2 linked regions of the Homo sapiens genome follow. The protein of the gene in region 2 interacts with the protein of the main gene of each other region in a pairwise test. Each region holds a gene or a part of one and is shown on either strand. Other genes may lie near its edges.

What was found. Proteins that work in one complex are often made in the same cells at the same time.
Region 1: the proteins of VPS33A (region 2) and STX17 interact in binary tests that used the Homo sapiens proteins (3 or more experiments, as listed by UniProt).

What each region holds. Positions count from the first base shown.
Region 1 is NC_000009.12:99,965,654-99,972,678, forward strand, and holds part of STX17 (syntaxin-17), read left to right. Parts: intron 1-1,999; coding exon 2,000-2,086; intron 2,087-2,780; coding exon 2,781-3,020; 3' UTR 3,021-7,025. UniProt on the Homo sapiens protein: SNAREs, soluble N-ethylmaleimide-sensitive factor-attachment protein receptors, are essential proteins for fusion of cellular membranes.
Region 2 is NC_000012.12:122,256,492-122,263,516, reverse strand, and holds part of VPS33A (vacuolar protein sorting-associated protein 33A), read left to right. Parts: intron 1-2,069; coding exon 2,070-2,256; intron 2,257-7,025.

The DNA.
Region 1 (7,025 bases), on a different chromosome or scaffold from region 2:
GAAAGCTGACTTAAATAAGTTTTGCTATTGAGGAAAATAAAAATTGAATGATTGAATGAATGCTAAAAGATACCTGAAGTTTTAGTGTCCTAGAATTTTCAAGCACCGAAAGAAAAAGTTAAATATATTTTTTGATAGAGAGATGAGAGTTAACACTTCCTTGGGGAAATTAGGATAAATTTTTCTATTTTTCCCCCCTCACACTTTGCAAACACATTTTATCCCCACTTCAACTCTATGAAGGTATAAGTATCACTATTCTTACTTGATAAATGAGAATACCAACACCTAGAGAGCTTGAGTAATTTGTCTAAGAGCACATAGTGGCGTTTGCTGAGATTTGAACACAGATTATCTGACTAAAGGTGGTGCCCTTGATCTGAGCACATATAATAGTGGTTCTTAAAGTGTGAGAATTGTGGACTGGCAGCATCAGCATCACCTGGGAGCTTACTAGCTCAGGCTTCATCCCAGGCCTACTGGATCAGAAACTCCGGGGATTAGGCCCAGCAATCTGTGTTTTAAGAAGCCTCCAGGTGGAAGACTGAGAACCATTGTTAAAGTTGTCTCTCACAGAGACATTCAAAGGAAAACTGATAAGGGACTTTCTTAGGCATTGTTTTAGAGATGTCAAGATAGTGGTGGAGAATATTGGAATGAAGGGATACCACAATGGCGAAGATAGACATATTTTGTGTATGAGAAGGGAAGTAATATCAGTAATGCTAAGAGGAAACAAACATGGGGAAAAAGTAGCTGTGTGGTTTGGGCTTCATGTTTTCAAATGAAATAATGGTTGGAATTAGAAAAGTGTTGTATGTGTCTGCCTCAATATAAATGAATAGGCCAATTATATAAGGGCAATCAAACACTTCAGGATTAAAGTTGAATTATTTCACCCTCATTGCAGGTGGCATCTATCTAGGATCAAAGAGAGATTCTCTTTTTTCTGCACATTAAAAAAACAAAACCAAAATAGTCTGTAAACTGTGATGGTTGATTATATGTTGGCTTATACATTTGTTGTTTATACATTTGTGATAGTTGGTTTATACATTTGCTAAATTTCATCATACTATACCATTAAAAGCAGTACTTGTTATATGTAAATTCTATCTAAATAAAGTTGAATTAAAAATGGGAATGTGTTCCTACAGCAAGTAATGAGTTCGTGTCACTGGAGGTATCTGAGCAGAGGTTCAGTAACCACTTGTCAGGAATGTTACAGTAGGGCTTCGCACATCAGAGAGGAGATTGACCTGATGACCTCAACATTCCTTCTACCCAGAGATTCCATGAGTCACAGTTGCTGTTGTGCCAGCACAGGTGTTGCCATTTTATGTAGAATGCTTTATTAATATATTTGATCTGAAACATTTTAAACTGTCATGATTTTAAAATGTATTAAGATACACAGGTGTAAAGCACAGAACAGTGATTTCATTCACTGTTCCCTACTGCATATTACAAATGGAAAGATCTCATAATAGATCAAACCGTATTGTAGTCTTGTTCCTGAAACATAACAATTTGTATTTATTGGACCAAGGGCATTTTACTCCTAAGGTAAATGTGCCTGATTTAAACTGAATCCTCAAAGAAGGTAAGTTAGGGAGGTATTTTGGGGTTTGATTTTGTTGGGTTTTTTTTTTCCATCAAACCCAACATGACATGTAAATGCTTATTTGGATTTTTTTTTTCTGGAAAGTAGATTCATTTGGAGAATAATATGTTTGTATGTTTGAGTGAATTTTAGCGTGAGATGCTTTTTGCTGTAAAGTTGCCACCCTTTTATTACCTAATAATTAAGACCCCCCCCTTTTTTTTATGAAAGTTAATTTGTCCTTTCGACATGGCTTATCAGATGCTATTAATGAACCACTATTAAGATGGCAAGGCTGCAGTACCCAGGGCCCTGATTACAGGAATTAAAATAGTGTGTGTTGGCTCCCTGCTGCTCCCCAGCAGGACCGCTCACTCATAATTCCTTTGCATCTAGTCTCAGCAGGAGAAGATTGACAGCATTGCAGACCATGTCAACAGTGCTGCTGTGAATGTTGAAGAGGGAACCAAAAACTTAGGGAAGGTAAGATTCTGCTCCTGCTGACAAATCAATGGTACTCTGGCTCCCAGGAATCTCTAGTATTAACCCAATTGATCTGCTCTCTTCAATGTTGAGGGAACCAGCAATTAAGGAAATAAGGAAGAAATGACACATAGGTAGTGTAAGAAATCAATGTTGTAATATTCTACTCTAAGATTCATTCTATCAGGAGAGGAATTTCTTCAAAGAGAGAATAAACTGTAGCTCTGCTGTAAGGCATTTGGTGTTACCAGGGAATATTTGCAGAGGGTAAAAGTGTAAGTATGTGACAGCACACATGGAGTGGGACCATCTATTTTCCATAGGATGTTGCTTTTAACCCCAGGCACACAGCACTGAATAATTTCTGTGCAACATAAAAGCTTTGGGGGAAATCTGTGGCTGCCGAAACAGTTTAAATAAGCCAGCTAGATAGTTAGTGAATTGATTGTTTTGCAAGTAAAATCAATTTGTAGCAGTCCACTCTTTGTAGCTCAGCTCTCTAAGTTCTGAGATCTGGAGCAATTGCAGTACCTGTGGAATACTTTCTTTTCCCCCCTACAAGTACAGTCTCTAAGGTTAATTATGTACCAAGAGTTAAAGAGGCATTGCCAGGAGTAATGAGAGGAAAACGCACATCACCACAGGCAGATATTCTCAACTCAGTTTCTAAATTGAATTTTTTTTTTTTTTACAGGCTGCAAAATACAAGCTGGCAGCTCTGCCTGTGGCAGGTGCACTCATCGGGGGAATGGTAGGGGGTCCTATTGGCCTCCTTGCAGGCTTCAAAGTGGCAGGAATTGCAGCTGCACTTGGTGGTGGGGTGTTGGGCTTCACAGGTGGAAAATTGATACAAAGAAAGAAACAGAAAATGATGGAGAAGCTCACTTCCAGCTGTCCAGATCTTCCCAGCCAAACTGACAAGAAATGCAGTTAAAAACCAAATTTCAGTATTATTGGTGCCAACATGTCTATCCTGAGGACCTTTGCTGCTGTTGGACACTCCGTCACCTTTTGGAACACAAGTATATCAAGATAGTGGCTACTGATGTTCAAGTGGGATTGAAGTGTGATAAATGGATATATTTTGTTGTTTGCTGGGGTGTTCATGGAGATGTTAAGAGATTGAGGCCCTGGGCTGAGGGTATATAATGTATGTCAGGTAAAGTTTGAAGACTGCCAAGGAGCAGATTTTCTCCCTGGAAATGTGAAAACTGAACCTATAACTCTGATAAGGACTTGAGATGTGTAGAAACGTTGGGTTATGGAAGACTAGTTTCTTCCATAACCCTGAATTGGAGACCTTAATGCTAAGTGTAGATTATTGAGGTTTGTTAGTGAGGAAAAGAATAAGAGTTCAGAAGCCTTTGTTATCAGATAGCGAAATCAGGGCCTAGTGAGGAGCACAGGTCGACTACATAATGGAGTCCATTGGCGAACCCTATTGCAATTTGGTCCAACTATATCTTCTGGTGAAGGAAATTAATGATGTAAGAAAATGCAAGAGGCTCAACTTCTCTTCCAAAAATCTTCTGGCTTCTGAACTCTTCCTCTGCCTCTCTTTAAATAAATAACACAGAATTTCAAGTGGTAGGAGACTTATTAAGCCAGTCACCAAGCTTGGTCTGTCAGCCTGTCTTCTAACACCTCAAAGATCTTGTGCCCTGTGCTGTCCCTCCCTTGTAATTATGAAAAGTTCTTTGGTTTCTGGGGTGAATTCTACCCATGTATAATGAGGAATTCTCTCATAACCTTTTTTGTCTTGTCTGTCATCTCTGTTCATCCCTTCCTATAACCTCTAGGTAAAAAGAAAAGAAAAAAAGAAATTTCGAGATATTTTCAACATTGTTAGAGTTTGGGCTAAAATGAGCAAGGAGAAAAAAACCACCAAGAACATTTCCTGGGGCATGTTCCAGTTTTGAGGGGTGATATATCTGCCAGATAGGGGGTATCTGACCCAGTCTTCTTTTCAGCTGGTCTCTGGGGGGAGCTGAGAACTCGCTTGCTACCTCACATCCTTTTCCCCAGACTTTTTATCTCCTATGCATCCCTTTGCTTTCTATAGCTGGTGTTTCTTCCCCAAAATGGCGTTCCCATGCTTACCTTTCTCACATTCTAGACAATGATGGACAAAGACGCATGCAAGACTCAGACCCGGGGAATGGTGTGGTGCTAATCTCAACACCTGACATTCACAGCAAGCATGGCCCAGCCCAACTGCATGTCTATCTCAAACCGCAGAAAGGCTTTAATACTGGAAAAAAAGAATTCAAGACTACAGGCAGCTCCCCTCTGTACCCCAACTCATTTAAAATAGGAGGAATCACTTTTTGCCTTACTTAACGCTTTTTTCTGAGCACAGGGATGGGCACCTGCACCCCAGAAGGTGTGAGCTGTCTCTCTGCCAGGAGCTAAGGTTCATTAGGGGATTGGATGGTTTATCACTTCTTTCTTTCTGAGTTTACTTTTAGTAACTTTTATTGATGGCTACCTTTCATGTCCCTGTCTAAAGAGACTTTCTCTTTCATACGTCTTAAATCTCATCAATGAAATCCAGTGAAACAGCACCATTTCTTAGTATCATTAAATAACTAGAAAGTATCAAGTATTGCTCTCTGCTGCTTTATATCATTAACATATTAATAATACCAAGAAGGAAATACTTTGAATAAGTGTCAGATTCTGATCCAGTATTGGACACCTGTGATATTGGACACCTGTGAGGCTGGGATAATTACTTTTGAATTACACCTCTTCTCTAGTTTCTGGACCTTGCTCTGTCACTTTAACACAGGGTGATCAAACCTGAATGAGGATCAGAACTCACCCAGGCACATACTAAAGCAAGATTCCTAAACCTCAGTTCCAGGGGTAATTCTGACATCACCCGTCCAGCATAGTCAGCTGAAATTATAAATCTAAGAAACAGTTACATCAAGATTCTGCTGTGTCATTTAATTCTGAAACTCCCAGTATTCTACCCTTCTTCATCACTGCATATTACCCCACTCTTCCATCCCAAATTGGCTATCCTTTCAGCCCACCAACTTAGCGGCAGCACTAGGGATTCATTATAAGGTAAATCTGGTTTACATAAAGACCTGAAGGAGGCCTGTATTTGAAGCTCACACTTGGTATTGGTATCTCTCATTTTTACTGAGCCAGTGTGGAATACCACTGTATGTACTCATATAAGCCCTTGACTTTTACTGCTCATCAGGATTGGAATATTACTCTAGCAGTCTTCACACATAGGCAAGTTACAGTCCTTTTAAAAAGTATCTCATTTCCCTATAATGGAACCTAATAGCCAACTTTTTCATAGAAATTGCTAGAAGAGTTTGATCAACTATAAATGATAAAGTGTTTATAAGCATAGTCAGTGTGACACAGAAACCAATCTTAAAATTGAATTTAATGTTTTATCATATCAGATTAAATATTTTCTCCATGTCTTATTTTTACTGCAACAAGTTAGAAAGTGGGAACACTTTGATTAATGTCTTAAAATTTGTGGGCCCTCATTTGGATAAAGGCAGCAATCCTAAGGACTTTTTTTTTTTTTTTAACATAATCTGAGAATTTCTCTGTAGAGCAGAGACTTTCAAACCTTTTGGCTGTAACCCACAGTAAAAAACGCATTTATATCAAACCTTAGAATATGTTTAATGAACAATACTTACCATTCTGATGCTTTTTATTGTTTCAGTTTTTAAAATATGCCAGTTGCAACCCACTAAATTGATATCTACCAATGGGTTGCAACCCTTAGCTTGAAAAAAACACCCTCACAGAGGAACTGGTATTTCTTGAATACCTTCTGTTTGCCAGGCACTTCACCAGGCATTTTACAAGTAAGGAAACTGGGCTTCAGAGAAAATAATTTGCAGAGGTTTACTCAACTACAAAGGGGTGAAGCCAGGAATGTTAACTAGGTCTGTTGAGCTACAAAAACTTTTATGTCTCTCAGACTATACAGCCTCTATACAAAATTGAGATGGGGGTTGGGGGCAGGGGCTCATGCCTGCAATCCCAGCACTTAGGGAGGCAGAGGCCAGAGGATCACTTGAGCCCAGGAGTTTGAGACCAGCCTGGGCAACATAGTGAGACTCTTGTCTGTATGAAAAAAATTAAGAATTAGCTGGGTGTGGCATAGCACACACCTGTGGTCCCAGCTACATGGGAAGCTGAAGTGGGAGGATCACTTGAACTCAGGAGCAGCCTTGGTGACAGAACAAGACCCTCTCTCAAAAAAATATTTAAAAAAAGGTGGGTCATCCATTCTCCTTTACCAAACAGGCTTTGAAATGACACATTCCATTCATTTGCATCTTTTTAAAAAACTTCTGATTCCTTACTGAGTGTCCAGCAGCCTCAAAGTTTTTAATGGTAGCTGATGCAGACATAAACAGTGCTCAATTTGGCCCTTAAACTATAAAATCAAGAAAGAGTATTTCAATCCCATCCACCTGCCTGCAAGATTTCTTAATGTTCACTAGTTATAACCATTGTTTAAACAGTGCTTTTTGTGTAATTTAAAAATAAACTTTAATGCTTTTTAAAACAAATTTATCATAATTCATAGATCAAATGATTATCCTTTAAAATGATACCCTTGGGAAATCATGTACTTACTGTAGTGATGCTAGTATTAATATTACTTAGACCAATTTTGAAACTGTTCTTTCAGAATTGCCTCCAAAGACATTTTGCAGATCATCCCAGAAAAGGGGGTATGATGGTGCTGTGTAGAACTGACCAGAGTTCCTGGAGGATTTTGAGGTTATACTGAAACTGAGTGCTGTACAGGGAGAATTGCATGAGTCCAGAAACTTCCTTCTGTGGGCTGCCTGCCTTCCTGCCCTCCCTTAAGTGCTCTAAGATTTTTGTACAGGAGTAAGAATCAAATACTGGTAACATCAATCACAAGAAGTTGAGGAAA
Region 2 (7,025 bases):
TTTATGAGCTCCTTCTCATGGAAGACCCTCACTCTTGCCAGTGCAAGGTGGTCTTTTGGAAAACTGAGATAGGCATGGAAGAATATAAAAGAGAAGATGGGGGCTGGGGGGAGGTGGAGATAGTTAATGGGTACAACAAAAAATAGAATAAGACCTACTATTTGATAGCACAACAGGGTGACTATAGTTAATAATAATTACGTATTTTTAAACTTAAAAAGTGAGACTGGGCATGGTGGCTCACACTTGTAATCCCAGCATTTTGGGAGGCCAAGGCGGGTGGATCACTTGAGGTCAGGGGTTCGAGACCAGCCTGGCCAACATAGTGAAACCCCGTCTCTACTAAAAATACAAAAATTAGCCAGGTTTGGTGGCCTGTGCCTGTAGTCCCAGCTACTCGGGAGACTGAGGCATGATAGTCTGTTGAACCCGGGAGGCAGAGGTTGCAGTGAGCTGAGATCGCGCCACTGCACTCCAGCCTGGGCAACAGAGGGAGACTCCGTCTCAAAAAAAAAAAAAAAAAAAGAGTGTAATTGGATTGTTTTGTAACTCAAAGAGTAAGTGCTTGAGAGGATGTGTCCCCCCATTCTCCGTGATGTGCTTATTTCACATTGCATGCCCACATCAAAACATCTCATGGACCCCATAAATACATGCGCCTGCTATGTACCCCCCAAAAATTAAAAATAGAGAGGATGAGAAACTTAGGAAGTTGTTGTCAGCAGTTGGAGAGGAGGATCATCCTATCTACCCATTCTTTCAAGATAGCCAAAAGCTACCCATTCTTTAAAGATAGCCAAAAGCTTAAACCTGTGTCAGTAAAAAGGGCCCTAGTTTAAAAAAATAAACCTCCAGCAGTTATTTTTAAATATACTGCATGTACTTGAATTTCATAAGCAAAAAAAAAAAAAAAGCTGATTAAATTTTAATATAGCATCCAGTCTATAGAGGAAGTGCTCCCAGCCGAGTCTGCACTCTGTGGTACAATTGATTGTTGCAGCCCCTAAAATCTTAAAAGCATATGGGCTATTTTTGGAAGTTCTCTGTCAAGGAGAGTAGGAGTGGGAGTCAAAAGTGATCTTTCATTTTAATTTAAGACTCTTTGTGGCTGCATTGCTTTGGTTGAAGAACCATTTGTTTTTATTGAGACACAGATATCCTATTTCAATCAACCTGAGAGCTTCAATGCCCCATAAATGGTTTAAGAGAATGCTAAAATGTACTCGCCAGGACTCAGTGATGCTTTCCTGTCAGGGGGAAGAAAGAGAGAGAGAGTGGGTACAGCTGTAACACGTTGGGTCTGAGTCAGTTTTTGGTTATTTTTTTGAGACACAGTCTCACTCTGTTGCCCAGGCTGGAGTGCAGTGGTGGAATCTCTGCTCACTGCAACCTCTGCCTCCAGGGTTCAAGCAATTCCCCTGCTTTAGCCTCCCAAGTAGCTGAGATTACAGGCACACACCACCATGCCCAGCTGATTTTTGTATATTTTTGTTTTAGTTTTTATTTATTTATTTTGAGATGGAGTCTCGCTGTGTTGCCCAGGCTGGAATGCAGTGGCGTGGTCTCGGCTCACTGCAACCTCTGCCTCCCGGTTTCAAGCGATTCTCCTGCCTCAGCCTCCCAAGTAGCTGGGATTACAGGTGCCTGCCACCATGCCCGGCTAATTTTTTGTATTTTTAGTAGAGTCGTGGTTTCTTCGTGTTGGCCAGGTTGGTCTCCACCTCCTGTTCTCGTGATCCGCTCGCCTCGGCCTCCCAAAGTGCTGGGATTACAGGCATGAGCCACTGCGCCCAGCCATTTTTGTATATTTTATAGAGACGGGGTTTTGCCACCTTGACCAGACTGGTCTCGAACTCCTGACCTCAACTGATCCGCCCGCCTTGGCCTCCCAAAGTGCTGAGATTACAGGTGTGAGCCACTGCACCCGGCCTGAGAGTCAGTATTTATATGATTTATCTAGCCAGCATTTATTTAGTGCCTGCTATGTGCCAGGCAGTGGGGATAAAAAAAGCAAAATGGTCCATGACTCTTAGGAGCTCATAAGCTAACAAATGTTGCTTCCTTTGCAGTGAAGATAGACGAGGCCCAACGAGAGATTTTCATATTCTGTTTGTGCCACGCCGTAGCCTGTTGTGCGAACAGCGGTTGAAGGATCTGGGTGTCTTGGGATCCTTTATTCACAGGGAGGAGTACAGCTTAGATCTCATTCCATTCGATGGGGATCTCTTATCCATGGAATCAGAGGGTGCATTCAAAGTAAGTTTGGCATTTCCTTAACTTCAGGCATTAATTTTTGCCCAGTTTATGAGTGTGAGCATACCACAGTACTGATTACTGTGAAGCTGAGTCCCATTTTATATGTTTATTGATGTTTAAGATTTTCTGTTCAACAAATTGTTCATTTTCTTTGCCCGTTTTTTCTTTTTGAGTAATTCTTTGTATATTCTGGATGTTGATCATTATGGATTATAAAAGCTGCAAGTATCTTCCCAGTCTGTGACTTGTCTTTTAACTTTGTTTTTTTGTTTTGTTTTGTTTTTTTGAGACGGAGTCTCGCTCTGTCGCCCGGGCTGGAGCGCAGTGGCGCGATCTCAGCTCACTGCAGCCTCCGCCTCTTGGGTTCAAGGGATTCTTCTGCCTCAGCCTCCTGAGTAGCTGGGATTACAAGTGTGCGCCACTATGCTTAGCTGATTTTTGTATTTTTAGTAGAGACAAGGTTTCACCATGTTGCTTGGCCAGGATCCGCTTCATGATCCGCCCGCCTCCGCCTCCCAAACTGCTGGGATTACAGGCGTGAGCCACCGCGCCTGGCTTAACTTTGTGTATAATGTCTTTTATCATGTAGACACTTCCCATTAAAAGTAGTTAAATTTTAAAATTTTAAAATATTAGCTTTATTTATTATAACTCACAATACTGGCTGAGGTAAGTGGCTCATGCCTGTAATCCTAGCACTTTAGGAGGCTGAGGCGGGTGGATCACCTGAGATCAGGAGTTTGAGACCAGCCTGGGAAACATGGGGAAACCCCGTCTCTACTAGAAATACAAAATTAACCGGGTGTGGTGGTGGGTCCCTGTGGTCCCAGCTATTCAGGAGGCTGAGGCAGGAGAATCACTTGAACCCGGGAGGTGGAGGTTGCAGTAAGCCGAGATTGCGCCACTGCACTCCAGCTTGGGCGACAGAGGGAGACTCTATCTCAAAAAAACAAAAAACAAAAAACAAAAAAAAAAACTCACAATGCCATGAAATTCTCTCCTTTAAGGTGCAAAATTCAGTGGTTTTTAGTGTATTTACAAAGTTGTGCAACTATCTCCACTCTCTAAGTATGGCACATTTTAACTATTCCGAAAAGAATCCCCATGCCCAGTAGCAGTCTGTCGCTATCTTTCCTTCCCTCAGCCTCTGGCAGCCACTAATCTAGTTCAGTCTGTATGAATTCGCTTATTCTGGAGTTTTCCTTTTCTTCTTTTTTTGAGATAGAGTCTCACTCTTTTGCCCAGGTTGGAGTGCAGTGACGTGATAATACCTCACTGCAGCCTTGACCTCCTAGGCTTGAACGAATTTTCAGCCTCAGCCTTTTGAGTAGCTGGAACTACAGGCATGTGCCGCCACACCTGGCTAATTTTTTTTTAATTTCTTTTTTTTTCTATTTTTATTTTTTGGAGAGACAGCGTCTTATTATGTTGTCCAGGCTGGTTTTGAACTTATTCTGGAGATTTTTTAGAAATGAAATTCTATAATACATAAATGGTCCTTTGTGTCTGGCATCTTCACTTAGTGTAATGTTTTGAGGGTTCACCCAGGTTGAAGCCTGCGCGAGGCCTTCATTCCTTCTTATTGCTGAATAGTATTCCATTGTAATGATATTATCATTCATCAGCTGATGGACACCTGATGGGTTGTTTCCACTTTTTGGCTGTCACGATACTGTGAATATTGTGAAAAGTTTTTATGTGGATGTATGGTTTCATTTCTCTTAGATATACCTAGGAGTAGAGACTGGGCGTGGTGGCTCACGCCTGTGATCCTAGCACTTTGGGAGGCTGAGGTGGATGGATCACTTGAGGTTGGGAGTTCAAGACCAGCCTGACCAACATGGAGAAATCCCGTCTCTACTAAAAATACAAAATTAGCCAGGCATGATGGCGCATGCCTGTAATCCCAGCTACTTGGGAGGCTGAGGCGGGAGAATTGCTTGAACCTGGGAGGTGGAGGTTACAGTGAGCTGAGATCACGCCATTGCACTCCAGCCTGGGCAACAAGAGTGAAACTCTGTCTCAAAAATACATACATACATACATACATACATACATACATACATACATACACACATACATACACACACACACACCCCTAGGAGTAGAATTGCTGAGTTGTGGTAACTCTGCATTTAACATTTGGAGGAGCTGCCAAACTCTTTTGCACTGAAGCTGTACCGTTTGTACTCCCAGCAGCAGTGTGGGAGGGTTCCAGTTGTATATCCACATGGACAGACTTATTATTCTGTCTTTTTTTTTTTTTTTTTTTTTGAGATGGATTGTCACTTTGTCACCCAGCCTGGAGTACAGTGGTGCGATCTCGATCTTGGCACACTGCAACCTCGGCCTCCCAGGCTCAAGCAATTCTCCCGCCTCAGCTTCCTGAGTAGATGGGATTACAAGCATGCACCACCACGCCTGGCTAGTTTTTGTATTTTTAGTGGAGATGGGGTTTCGCCATGTTGGTCAGGCTGGTCTTGAACTCCTGACCTCAGGTGATCCACCTATCTCAGCCTCCCAAAGTGCTGCGATTACAGGCGTGAGCCACCATGCCTGGCCTGTTATTCTTTGAATTTAGTCATCCTACTGAGTATGAAGTGGTGTCTCATTGTAGTTTTTATTTGCATTTCCATAATGACTAAGGATGTTGATCATCTTTTCTTGTGCCTGTTGGCCTTTGTCTTCAGCTAAACAAATGTCTGTTCAGATCACTTGCCCATTTTTAAAATTGGGTTCTGTCATTTTTATTACAGAATTGTAAGAATTCTTAATAGATTCTAAATGCAAGTCTCTCCTCAGATACATGATTTCCAAGTATTTTCTTTTGTTCTGTGAGTTCTTTTCACTTTCTTGGTGAGATTGGTGTCGTTCGATGCACTAAAGTTTTAAATTTTGGTGAAGTCTCTTTTATCCAGTTTTTCTCTTGTTACTTGTGCTTTCAGTATCATCTCTGAGAAGCCATTGCCTACCCCAGGATCACAAAGATTCACTCTGATGTTTCCTTCTAAGAGTTCTATAATTTTTTATTTTTTAAAGAGACAGGTCTCACTATGTTGCCCAGGCTGGTCTCACACTCCTGAGCTCAGGCAATCCTCCCGCCTCAGCCTCCCAAAGTGCTGGGATTACAGGTGTGACCCACCGCGCCCAGCTTATAATTTTTCTACATCTTATGTTTAGGTCTTCAACCCATTTTAAGTTAATTCTGTATGTAATGCAAGGTGGGTGTCCAAATTTCATTTTTTACACATGGATATCTATTTGTTCCAGCACTATTTGTTGAAAAGACTGTATTTTCCTCATTGAATTGTTTTGGTACCCTTGTCAAAAATCAATTGTCCACAAATGTAAGGGTCTGTTTTTGGTCTTTTAGTTCTGTTTCACTGATCTATATGTCTGTATGTCCGTCCTTATGCCAGTACTACACTGTCTTGATTACAGTAGCTTTGCCATAAGCTTTGAAATCAGAAGTGTGAGTCCTTCACCCTAAAGCAGGTAAATATATCACTTTTGTTCTTTTAGATTGTGCTTTTTGAGTCTTCATAAATCTTCCACTCTGCAGACAAAGAAGAAAATCTTTTTTTTTTTGAGATGGAGTCTCACACTGTCACCCAGGCTGGAGTGCACTGGTGTAATCTCAGCTCACTGCAACCTTCACCTCCCAGGTTCAAGCAGTTCTCCTGCCTCAGCCTCCCAAGTAACTAGGATTACAGGCACACACCACCACGCCCAGCTAATTTTTTTGTGTATTAGTAGAGACGGGGTTTCACCGTGTTGTCCAGCCTCCTGAGCTTCCACCTGCGCCCGGCCCTTTTTTTTTTTTTTTTTTTTTTTGAGGCAGAGTCTCACTCTGTTGCCCAGGCTGGAGTGCAGTGGCACAGTCTCGACTCACTGCAACCTCCGCCTTCTGGGTTCAAGCAGTTCTCTTGCCTCAGCCTCTCAAGTAGCTGGGATTACAGGCATCCACCACCACGCCCGCCTAATTTTTGTATTTTTAGTAGAGACGGGATTTTACCATGTTGCCCAGACTGATCTCGATGTCCTGACCTCAGATGATCCACCTGCCTCGGCCTCTGAAAGTGCTGGAATTACAGGCGTGAGCCACTGTGCCTGGCCTGAAGCTACTTTTTACCCCAGTTCTCAGACTGCCCCTTATCCCAGAAGCAATCACTATTTCTCTTTTAATTTGGGGTGGGGGGATATTATATGCAGCTACAGCTCATAGTATATAATCCCTCCCCACTTTTGTACAAGTAGTAGCATATGATATATATACTTTGGTATGTTGCGTTATTCTCTTAATAATATCTCTGAGTCATTTTCTACCACGTATGGCAATACTTGTTTATTCTCATTTGAAGCTGCATAGAGTTCCATTGTTTGGATGTACATAATGTATTAAATCAGCTTTCTGTTGGAGAGCATTTTTTTCCTCTCTACGCTGTTGGAGGCAGTGCTGCCGAGAATGAGCCTGTTTGTAGGCCCCTCTGCACATGCGCCCTTTGTAGGCTGCGTTCGCCTTTGTCATTTCTTTTGACATTGCTTCTGGTAATTTTGGCTGTGTGTATGTTTTTAACATAATCACACTTACCCATGTTTCTTTGATTTATGAGTTTATGATGCTGCTGCTGCTGGTGCCGCTGCTGCTGCTCTGGAGACTAGAACTTTTTTTTTTTTAATTGTTTTTGAGACAGATTCTCACTCAGTCACCCAGGCTGGGATGCAGTGGCACAATCTCGTCTCACCGCAACTTCCACCTCCCCAGTTCA